3 linked regions of the Homo sapiens genome follow. The protein of the gene in region 3 purifies or fractionates together with the protein of the main gene of each other region. This does not show direct contact. Each region holds a gene or a part of one and is shown on either strand. Other genes may lie near its edges. The genes, in order: CERT1, SIX2 and EYA1.

What was found.
Region 1: the proteins of EYA1 (region 3) and CERT1 purify together in Homo sapiens (affinity purification with mass spectrometry; 2 studies listed by BioGRID and IntAct, with this or other methods). This does not show direct contact.
Region 2: the proteins of EYA1 (region 3) and SIX2 purify together in Homo sapiens (affinity purification with mass spectrometry; 3 studies listed by BioGRID and IntAct, with this or other methods). This does not show direct contact.

What each region holds. Positions count from the first base shown.
Region 1 is NC_000005.10:75,413,982-75,417,733, forward strand, and holds part of CERT1 (ceramide transfer protein), read right to left. Parts: intron 3,053-3,752; coding exon 2,895-3,052; intron 1-2,894. UniProt on the Homo sapiens protein: Shelters ceramides and diacylglycerol lipids inside its START domain and mediates the intracellular trafficking of ceramides and diacylglycerol lipids in a non-vesicular manner.
Region 2 is NC_000002.12:45,007,839-45,011,590, reverse strand, and holds the start of SIX2 (homeobox protein SIX2), read left to right. Parts: upstream 1-2,138; 5' UTR 2,139-2,480; coding exon 2,481-3,040; coding exon of another isoform or gene 3,041-3,046; intron 3,047-3,752. UniProt on the Homo sapiens protein: Transcription factor that plays an important role in the development of several organs, including kidney, skull and stomach.
Region 3 is NC_000008.11:71,359,971-71,363,722, reverse strand, and holds the start of EYA1 (protein phosphatase EYA1), read left to right. Parts: upstream 1-1,653; 5' UTR 1,654-2,076; intron 2,077-3,752. UniProt on the Homo sapiens protein: Functions both as protein phosphatase and as transcriptional coactivator for SIX1, and probably also for SIX2, SIX4 and SIX5.

The sequences.
Region 1 (3,752 bases), on a different chromosome or scaffold from region 3:
AAATGTCCACCAACAGGAAAATAGATAAGCAAATTGAAGTCATACAATAAAAAGTTATACAATAAAATAGTGTATAGCAATAAAAAAGAATAAACTACTATTAAATATAACAACATGAATGAATCTCACAGTCAAATGTTGAAGGAAAGAGAAGGCCTGACTCAAAAGTATACTGTATGATTCCATTTGTATGTTGTTCCAGAACAGGCAAAACTAATCTATAATGACATAGGTTAAAACCATATGATCACCTCTTGGGGTGGTGGTATGATATGGAATAGGAAGGAGCATGAAGGAACCTTCTAGGGTGCTAGAAAAGTTATATATCTTGATCTGTCTATGGTTAAGGGGTGTATACAAACGTTAAAAAAAATCAGGTAGTATACTTAAGATTGGTACACTTCATTGTATGTATGTTATGTATTAATTTTAAATGAATAAAACAAAAATGCACAGCACAGCAATAATATTAAAGACTTACAGGAAAGTGAAAATGTATGTAAAAGTACACACCTGTGAATCTAATAATGTAAGAAAATGTATCTTCAATGAACAGGTTATCTCTTATTAACACTGTTAACCATAATTGCCTAATTTTAGAATTTTTGGTTTTCCTGGACATGACTGGCTAACAATTAAGTACACTTCTTCTACAGTGGAAAGGATCATTATTATTATAGGTAACCAATAAAAATCATCACTACAAAATAGTATTTTCAATTAGCTGAAAGAATCCTGGAACTGACATTATAAATCTACATAAAAGTATAATATAGACAATTCTATTATTAAATAGCTGTTATTATCACCTATTTAATTGCTCTCATTAGATTTTAAGCCCCTTGAGAGACTATTTCCTGCTCATCACTGTTTTCCCATTCCTAGCTTAGAGTCAAGCACACAGCAGGCACACACCTGAATGAAACAATTTCAGTGAAACCATATTGTTATCATTGTACTTTCTTTCTCAATTCTAAGAATTACCTGAAAGACGTATTTGTTGATAAACAACTTTCTCTATTTAAGAACTTTCTAGTCTTTAGTGTGTATATATACACACACACACACACACACACTCTACATACAAAAGATTAGAAAGTTCTTGAATAGAGTTGCTTACCAATAAATACACACATACCCTGCATATATTATGTATATATATATGAACACACACATACTGTGTGTACACACATGTGCAAATACACACACACTTACATTCCATGTAAAATGTAACTGGGATCCAGTTATTTCAACCTTGAGAAAAAATTACAGTGGAAAAGGTTAATAAAATTTGACATCAGATAGATCTGTAAGAAGACTATAAAACACAGTAGTGTCCAGATTTTAACCAATACTGCCTGCCATCTTTTCTGGCTGTTCTTTGGTGGAGAGTGTTGCATGGAGAAGCAACAAAAGTGGTTTTTTTCCCGCAGATCTTTGGTTTGCTCTGCTCATTGCTACCCAATAAAGAAAGAGAACTGGTAAGATTAACAATGCTGAAAGCAATCAAAAATCTATCTCCCCTTTTCAACATGGCAAATAAACTTGAATGCTAAAATAATCAGGAAGTGGTATATAATGTGCAAAGGTTTAAAAAAAATTATTTTAGGCAATGTGGTTAGAGTATATGACCAAAGAATATGATCCCTTAGTGAAGGAAAAAGAGACTAAAGAGAGAGAAAGTTGCCAAAAAGTTGGAAATAAGCTAGTCTGGACTAGCTGAATGATAATCTTGAACCATTAGTCTAATGTATTTAGGGAGTTGTCCTGTTTTTCAATACATTGTTTTTTTTTTGTGAACAGGGACTCTTCTAATAATTCAATTTGATCCACACTGAGTATAGAGTTGAAATCTTTGAAGATAATAATAGTTTGGCTCCAGAATGATAATAAATTTTCTATACCTTAAAAGGATGTTTTCATTACCTATTTTAAAAGAAGACATATTCCTAATCAAAATGGCTTACTCTCACCTGCACTTGTGCATTCTGAACAGCTCTCTTTTCTTCTAAAACATGGGAACCTTCCTAAACACATAGTGCTATCATTGCTTTCCTTAGTGTCCCGCTCAAATTCAAAGGCCTTCAAACTCTGCAAGCAATATAACTCAGAATGAATATGATTCTGGCTGATGTCTAATCTGGCATCCAGAGCTGATATATAAAAGAATAGAGAAAAATGCCTCTAACTCTATTACTTTTCACCTTTTGACAAGCCTCTGGGCCTCAATTCCTTCTTCTATAAAATGATGGCATTGGACTAGAACTTTAAGGTATGTTTCAACTCTAACATTTTACTATTATTCTAAAGCTGAATTATAAATAGAAGTTTTCCTACTTAACAAATCCACTGAGCCATGCTTCACACTAGAAACTAAAGAGTCATACTATAATATTATCAGTGCTGCAGTTTAAACAAAGGTGGGAAAATGTGAACATAGGGCAAATGCTCAAACAACATAATGTATGTTAAATGGTATCACTGACCATGGAAAAAATACATGAGTATTACTATAATAAGTAAATGTTTAACTTTGTAAATTGGCATATAAGTTAGTTCATATGCCTTAAATGCAGTTTCATACATCATGCACCTAAAGGTGTGTAATGTTAAATGGCTCAACACTTCTATTCCAAAGCATTACTAACATCATCACAAAAACTTTTATATTAAATCTTTCAAGAAAGCATACTGTATAGTAACTAAACAAGTAATTGGTGAATCTTGTTAGGCAAATGAGTTTAGGATGCCCATAAAGCTTCAGAGTAGTAGTATCATCTGCTATTTCTATCAACCCAAGATTCTTCCCTAAGAAGTTAGCTTGTTTTAAATATTCAAACAATACGTAAAACTTAAATGTGATTATTTTTAAAAGGAAAAAAACCTAGTCTTACCTTATCCAGTCTCTTCTGCCAGCTGTCCTCACGTTTAACCATTAGTTCAATACAATGAGAAAGTGTTGCAAGGATTCCAGCAGTAGTTGCTTTAAAAGTTATCGCTTCCCCTTTAAAGTCTATACCATTAATTCCTTTTGGTGTCACATGTGGAAATACTGAAAATGAAAATTATTCACTGAAAATATCTCTAATGAGGAAATAATTCATCACAATTTAAGATTAGAAAATGTTTAGAAAATTAGCAAGTCAGAGCAGGTTTTGGGATTTTAATTTTCCTCCTGTAGGCCAACATTTAAAAATCTCCTATCCAAGCTCTATAAGCAAAGAAGCTTCGTGGCAGCATATGTACTTTCAAGTCCTTTTTTTCTAGATTCTGTTTCCTGAAATTTATTTGCTGTGCTGCACCCAATTAATCAAATGGTAGGAGGAGCAATACTTTAACAATAACATTCTGACAGCTTAGAGTAGGACCTAATTATGGCAAGAACTACCTTATTATTTTGAAAAGCCTAGAATTAAAAAAAATCTGAAGATAAACTAAAGAATCTAATAAAATAATATACAATTTAAAAATAAACATACAAATTTAAATCCAGGACCAATGCACTTAAACTCAATGCCTTTTACGTTTCAATTTTATCATTTTAATTCATGGTTAGCTTTTGAATTAAACAAAAAATCTTAAAACTCAAAGATGCAAACAAGAAATCATAATATTCTATAGTTAAGAAATCATTCTAGTAGAATAATTATAAATGAAATAATGTCAATTTTGACTTTAAAAACGATTAGAGATATGACAGTAAAGGTATAATCCATCAAAGAACAAATTGTGAAACTTAAATCAAAATGTAA
Region 2 (3,752 bases), on a different chromosome or scaffold from region 3:
AGGTGAATCCTTTTAACCACGTAGCTGAAGGAGACGTGCTGAAAAGAGTACGTTGCACTTTTGTTGGAGGTCAGCAAATTGGGCTTTGAACCTCATCACAGTCTGCGGTAAATTCTTCTCCATGTCTCCCAGGGTCCTTAGATCCAACTCTGGGGCAGCCCCTGTGCAGCAGTGCATAGGACTCTGGATAGGGTGGCCTGGACACAGCAGACCTCCTCCCAGCCCACAGATACAGACTCTAAAGATGCCACCTGGATTTCTGCAGAAAGCTTCCCCTTTCTGCACCCGCACTGGCTTGGGACCTACTTTGTCAGCCCTGTGGCCTCATTCAACATGCCAGGGTAGGCCCCTGGAAGCTAAAGTCTTAAGAGGAGTCCCAGGGTTCCATTCTCTCATGCCTACAACACTCCCAAAGGACTTCCGGAATGCTGCAGCACAGGGAAAATTTTTGAAATCTTGCAGAGAAGGAAATAAACACAAAGGCATAAATATATGCCTTACCATAGACACCAAGCAAAACCAAAAGTTGAACCCAGGGCTCTAGACTCCCATTCCGCGCTCCTAGCACAAACTCCATAGAAAGCATAAAAGGGTGGGAAAGAAGGAACTGGCCTAGACTCGGGTTCCATAGCCCTAGACTGGCTGAGGGCAGAGCCCAGGATTTGTGCTGGCTTGGGTCAGGCACTGAGTATGGCCCTAGGAGCTCCTGGCCTGCAGCAGCTGAGGGGGGAAGAGGAGGAAACTGAAGGAAGTGGAAAGGACATGTCCGGGAAGGAGCTAAGCCCCGGGCTTTTCAAAACGTAGAGCAAGAACACACCCATCCTCAGTTCTCCCACCTTTGTGCGAGCCCTTCTCCCACAGGACCAGCACCACATGTTTCCATTGGCACCCTGACAAAGAAGCAAAAAACAGGACCCCCTTTTAAAGCACCTCATCCCGGAGCTCAGCGAGCCGGTTCCCAGGCTGGAGTGGCCAGGAGCCGAGCCGATCCCCAGCGGCGAAGCGGGAGGACTGGGAATCTTGCCTCCGTTCTCCTCCCCGACCACCCACCGGGGAAGCCCCACCACCGTCCTAGAGTCCCTGCCGTCGCCCCTCTCCCCCGCCCCGGTGGGCAGACTGCGGGTCTGCGCCGTCCGGGGTTCTGCGTCGCAGCTGCCGGCCGGAGTCAGCTTCCATAGAGGCCACACGGAACTGCCTGGCGCTCCTCGGGCTGTGGGACCCGTGGGGTTAAGTCTGAGTCCCCGCCCGGCGAGGAGCAGAGAGCGCAGAGTTGGGGCGGTACAGGCCGCCAGGCAGCCGGCGGGGCTAGGAGAGGGAGGAAAGGCGGGATCCTCCGGGAAGTCGATTCTCCGGCGTCCGCCTGCGGCCACTGCCAAATCTTCCCCATTTCTTTCGTCTACTCCCTCCCCTTTTCCCTCGAGGACCGCTGAGTCCAGAGTTTCTAGGATGGGGGTGGGGCGCTGTCAGCAGAAAAAGCCAAGTCTTTGGGCGGCACCCGAGCACGTCCAAACTCTCCCATCCCACTGGCCTGCGCCGGGGTAGAATGTGCCCGGTGAACAGAGAGCCTGGGAGGGACGCGGTGACCTGGGGAGAAGGGGAACCCTGTAGGGTCTGGGCGAGGCTGCAGAGCCCTCTCCTAGCCAAAGCTGCCCAAACTTTCTTCCCCTGGAGTCTCCTTCCACCCCTCTCCCTCCCCTTCCTCCTGGACACCCCCTTAAACGGTCTCCGCCTTCCCTTCTCTCCTCTTCTCTCCCCACCTCGATCCACCCCTTTTCGTCTTCGCCCGCTCCCCCCGCTCTCCTGTCCTCCTCCTCCCTCCCTCTTTGGGCATCCGCCCCGTCAATCTCCGCCGCCGCCGGCCCCAACCCGGCCCCTCTCCGCCTCCCAGGCTCTCAGAGCGCCCCAGGCTCCAGTAGAGCCGCCCTCAGTTCTGCGCGGAGCGGGGCGATCTGTCAGCGGAGCCGGCCGGGGGGAGCCGCCCGGCCCGCCGAGGCTCGGGTTACCAGTGACTGACAGCGTCTCCATGGCGAATAATTTGACTCCGACTATTGTCTGGCGCTGGCAGGCCCCGGGTCAGATAACCGGACCAATCAGGGCGCGGGCCGCCGCGCCTCATGCCCGCTTAGAATAATATTATTAAGAAAGCTGAGAGCCAGCTAGACGGGAGGGAGAACGAGTGAGAAGCGAGCGAGGGAACGGCGGGCGGGCGCGGAGCATGCGGAGCGGCGCCCCGGGCGGCCCCCGGGCTTGGGCGAGGGCTTGGGCCAGGCGCGCGGGCCGTTGGGGTTCGGAGCTTCGTGGGACCCGCGGCCGGCGCGGGGACGTACGGCAGTGACTCGGGGCTCACCGGGGGCCAGTGCCGGGCCAGGGGGCCAGCCCCGCCCGCGTCTCGGCCCGGACGGCCCGGCGAGGAAGCTCCCATGCGGGACCGCGCGGCCCGGTGAGGGCGCGCGCGGGCGGGCGGGGACGCAGCCGGCACCATGTCCATGCTGCCCACCTTCGGCTTCACGCAGGAGCAAGTGGCGTGCGTGTGCGAGGTGCTGCAGCAGGGCGGCAACATCGAGCGGCTGGGCCGCTTCCTGTGGTCGCTGCCCGCCTGCGAGCACCTTCACAAGAATGAAAGCGTGCTCAAGGCCAAGGCCGTGGTGGCCTTCCACCGCGGCAACTTCCGCGAGCTCTACAAGATCCTGGAGAGCCACCAGTTCTCGCCGCACAACCACGCCAAGCTGCAGCAGCTGTGGCTCAAGGCACACTACATCGAGGCGGAGAAGCTGCGCGGCCGACCCCTGGGCGCCGTGGGCAAATACCGCGTGCGCCGCAAATTCCCGCTGCCGCGCTCCATCTGGGACGGCGAGGAGACCAGCTACTGCTTCAAGGAAAAGAGTCGCAGCGTGCTGCGCGAGTGGTACGCGCACAACCCCTACCCTTCACCCCGCGAGAAGCGTGAGCTGGCGGAGGCCACGGGCCTCACCACCACACAGGTCAGCAACTGGTTCAAGAACCGGCGGCAGCGCGACCGGGCGGCCGAGGCCAAGGAAAGGTACGAGTAAGTAGACCTTCTTCGGCGCCAGCTCCCCGGGGCCCAAGGGAGGGGTTCGCAGGGCTTCTGCCGGTCCCCCGGAGAGGCCTAAACTGGGCCCCCAGGCCCGGCCACAGCCCAGCGGCAGCCCGGCCTGACTTGGACGATGCTTAGGCCTTTCTATGCCGGAGACCCGGCGAGCAGGGATTTGTCTAAAGCGGGCAGAGCAATTCAGGAAGTTGTCAACTAACTACTCGGTCGCTAGAGGAAAAGGGTGGAGAAGCAGAGAGCTTCGGGGCAGCGCAGAACTGTGGGCCTGTATCCCCTGTGAGGCAGGCACAGTAGGTCTGGTCATCCTCAGGACAGAGGGGTTTGAGCCCAGATGAAAGGGGATTTGCAGATTTCTTGCTGGTGGTGCTTCCCGGCATTTCCCCCCAGCCTTAGCTCCAGGCCAAAGTGTGATGGGGTCGGGACTGGGGCTGGAACTTCCCTAGAATGACCTGGATGGGGAAAAGCCAGGCCATGAATTTTCGTTGTCACATGGAGTTGAGAGCGGGTCCTTTATCTCCTTAGAAAGGATCCAGAGGTGAAAGGGAGGAAGTGTCAGTTCTGGGAGAGAAGAGACGCATGCCCTGTTTTCTGCCTTGCTAGAGATAGCCGCCCTTCCCTGGCACTCCAGGCCCTTGATGCCTCTCTCCTTAGGCCCTACCTCTGATGGGTAGGTCGGAATGTC
Region 3 (3,752 bases):
GAATTACCACAACATTACATTTTATCTGACAATGCTAGAAATCTCCATTACAAGCTGTATTTTATTTTCTGCATATATACTTTAGTATATTGAATAACTGATACTTCTGGTCTGAGAAAGTGCAGTAGGTGGTAACATAATTCTATTTCTGCTGCATATATGAACAGATCCAATAGCAATCAACTGTGTTTTGACCTGGCTTCCCAAATATGGTAGATGACTAGCCCATGATTCCTTGCTGGTACTATACAAAATGAAATCCTAGGTGAGTTTGCAGTTTAAACTGTCGTTTATGTTTGACAAAGTGTTCTTTTCTGAGGAATTCAGATTGGCATACTTTCGGTGGTTGGGGGGAAGTCTGTAATAAATTTTGGTCATTAGCAGCTTTTTATTTTTTGTTTGCATCGGAATGGTGCTTTCATTTACATATTAGCAATATAAAGTTATGATTGTGTCTATGTGTTTTATTAGTTGACGATCTGGAAATGTATTATAAAGTCATGCAAAAAGTTATTGTGATTTTTAAAATTTTTTTCACATCTATCAAGCGCCTAAAAAATGAGGACGCTTTTTTTTTCCTTAAATAAAAGACCTAATCAGCAGAATAGTATTCTATGGGTGATGACAAAACAGTTTTAAGAAAAATCCGATGGGCTTAAAGATTTTATTTTAGAGCACAAAATTGGTTACAACGAGTGACTAGTATCAAAATAAACATTTGTATTTGAATGTTGGCACAGGTCTGGCAAATTGAGATACAATCATTAGTCACATAAACGATGCCTTCTTTGAATATTTGAAATCAACATAATGGTTAAGTCTTATCACCAAAGTCATGTATCTGTATAAAACATATCTTAACTGAAGCTCAGCTCTTTAGGTGAGTGTTATAGACTGTCATGCATAGATTCCGAGGTCAGTAAGAATTTTTTTTTAAAAGAATAAGCTGTAAAGAAAGAGTTCTAGATAACATGAATCTTTTCCAAAAACCATTTAAAAATATTAACACTGAAACATTATCTGGTTCATAGCCAAGGAATTGTTCACAGAAGATTTGCCATTCTAGAAATCATTTCGGATTCATCCTTCAGGCTTTCATTATTAAACTGATAAAAGCTTGCACGTTTGCTTTTTCATTTTCTACTTAAAGGGAAATGGCCATTCTAGTTTTTTATTTCCCCCAGACCTGTTTCAGTAGTAGGTACGTTAGTTAGGAAATAAATTATGAAAAGTAGTGGATTCCCTAAGTTTCAGGGCCTGAAAAAAGTTTAGGAAAAGTGTAAAAGATAACGTGTAACTACTCCCCAAAGATCTTAATTGGTAACTACTGTTGCAAGAGGACGCGTGTGTGTTGACCACGTCTCAGAGAAGTTATTCTCACACAGCTGTTTATTCAGATAGCGTGGGGCGCGTTCATTTACATAATTTTTTTTTTTTTAAACAGCAAGGTTGAGTCAGACAGAGCAGTGCTCCTTTCAATTGTTGCATTTAAACCAATAAGGTTAGGACAAGAGAATAGCTGTGGTTTGCGTTGCAAAAACCAAAAAAAAAAAAAAAAAAAAAAAAAGAAAGCCCCGAGGCTCCATGGGCAGACCTACAAGGCTGCGCAAACAAATCGAGGGATGAGATTCTGCTGTTTCTTTGTCTAGGGTTCTCAGATGCTATCTGCCGCTGCTGTTTGGTGGGGAAGGAGCGCTGGGCGCAAAGCTGTTACCAAACAGAACGGTGGGAGCTGATGGCTCCGAGTTTGGGGCGAGGTAGAAACTCTCCAGTGCCACTTCCGACTTTAAGCCTTCCTGTTGCCGTCCACTGTGGCGGGTTTCTTCCTGGGGAACACGTTTTCGCTCAGTCGCTCGGCAGCCCGAGCCTGCGGCAGCGGCCAGGCGCCTGCCCCCTGCGCCGAGCTTTCCCCTGCAGAGGCGCTCCACTCCCAGAAGCGCCGCGGCTGCACCAGAGCGCCTGAGAGCCCCCGCGCGTACCCATCCAGGAGCAAAACTATGTCAGGAATGGAGGTTTGCTAACCCAGAAAATTCGAAGGAACACATTAAACTGGTGGATGCAGCAGATGTAAGCGCTGTAAGTACAAGCTGACTGTTTGAAAAATTGTAGTGACTGACAACAGCTGTCCTGTGGGCAAAGCCCAAGCTAACAGGAGCGCTTTTATTATTGTTTTGATTTGTTTTCAAAGAAAAACATTATGGCATGGGGAAAATTATGACACTTTGTACCTAGTACTTTATGAGCCACAGGGTTTCATCCTAGAAGTAGAATTCCCAACCTCCAAATTATGAGCGATCAGGATCATTAAGAAATAATTACAAATTAATTGTTAACAATTACTTTTGTTATGCTCTAGATAAATGTAATGCAGGACCATATTCTTGCAGGGAGATGACTTCATATCTCTTTTCTGAATTGCTGCACAAATCTCAAATATATTTGTGTGGTATTGAATAAAGCGGTACATATATGTTCATTGCAATACATAAGTAACTTTTACACACTTTGATATGAAAAAAATGAAGCATTTAACATTTGAAAGGACAACAGATAACAACATTAAATTGATAGCACTTTTTAAGGAAGAAAATATTTTTGCTTTAATAAATTTCCCAAACGTTATATTAAACAAACTTATCTTCAGAAGGTGATATAACAAACATTTACCCAATTAATATATTTTTCTCTTATTGACACTTTGTAAGGCTTGAGTGGACCTTGAAGTTTAAAACAAGATCTGTAAACTTTTGAATTACCATTTAAAATATTTGCCATTCAAAATCAGTATATGAATTGTTAATGACTCATGGGTTTATATTTATTGGGAGGAGGTTTTGAACACATTAGAGCATAGCATTTGCAAGAATTCAATAAATTCAGAGCTGTCATTGAATTTAGGCAAACGTTTTTGTTTTATTTCTTAAAATGGCAAGGGGTACAAAAGGTCGATAGTAAGCACATAGTGTAGTTTTATAGGTTTGGGATTGTTTTTATAATGTGTCTTTCAAAGTAGGTTTTATTTTATGCTTGCATGAGTCTTTTCCCCCACAGTCTGGGGTCTGAGGACATGCACACATGTACAGTCATGCTTTTGCATTATCAAATATTTGATATTTGACTTTCTGCATGCTTGAGTTCTCCCAAGGCCCAAAGTGTTCAGTAAGTGAGCAAGCAGCCATGGATTTTCAATCTTTGAACATTCTTTGCGGTGACAGACATAGAGGCCTAATTGAGCCACTGTTCAGTTTTAGAGGGCCAAATGGAAGTCCACTGCTGTGTGAGTTTCATAGACATGATAAATGATTTTCTCAAAAGAAAATTTCCATTTGTGAAAATCGTATTAAGAATACATTGTAAAGAAGAAAAACACTTGCAGCAAGAATAAAACCACTTGTTTATCAAATATCAAAAGTATTTCATTCAACATTTTAAGTAAATTGATATTGAAAACAATCCTTTAAAGCTATTGGTAGCATCCATGTGGTTTAAATACTTATTTTTGTTTTCATGCGGACTCTATTTTGTCATTTTCTTTAAACGACGCATTGCAAAAAGTAATGTACTATACTACTTGAAAATAATCAGCAGTAGTATTAAAGCATTTATTTTATGGAGTCTTTGATAAAGAAGGAAATATAGTGTTAACATTTAAAAAACATTGACGTCTCCCTAGAACTTCATTTCAATTTTAGGTTTAGGTTTTTATTTTTAAAATTTAAGTTTTCATTACAACAATGATGCCATAGTTGGAG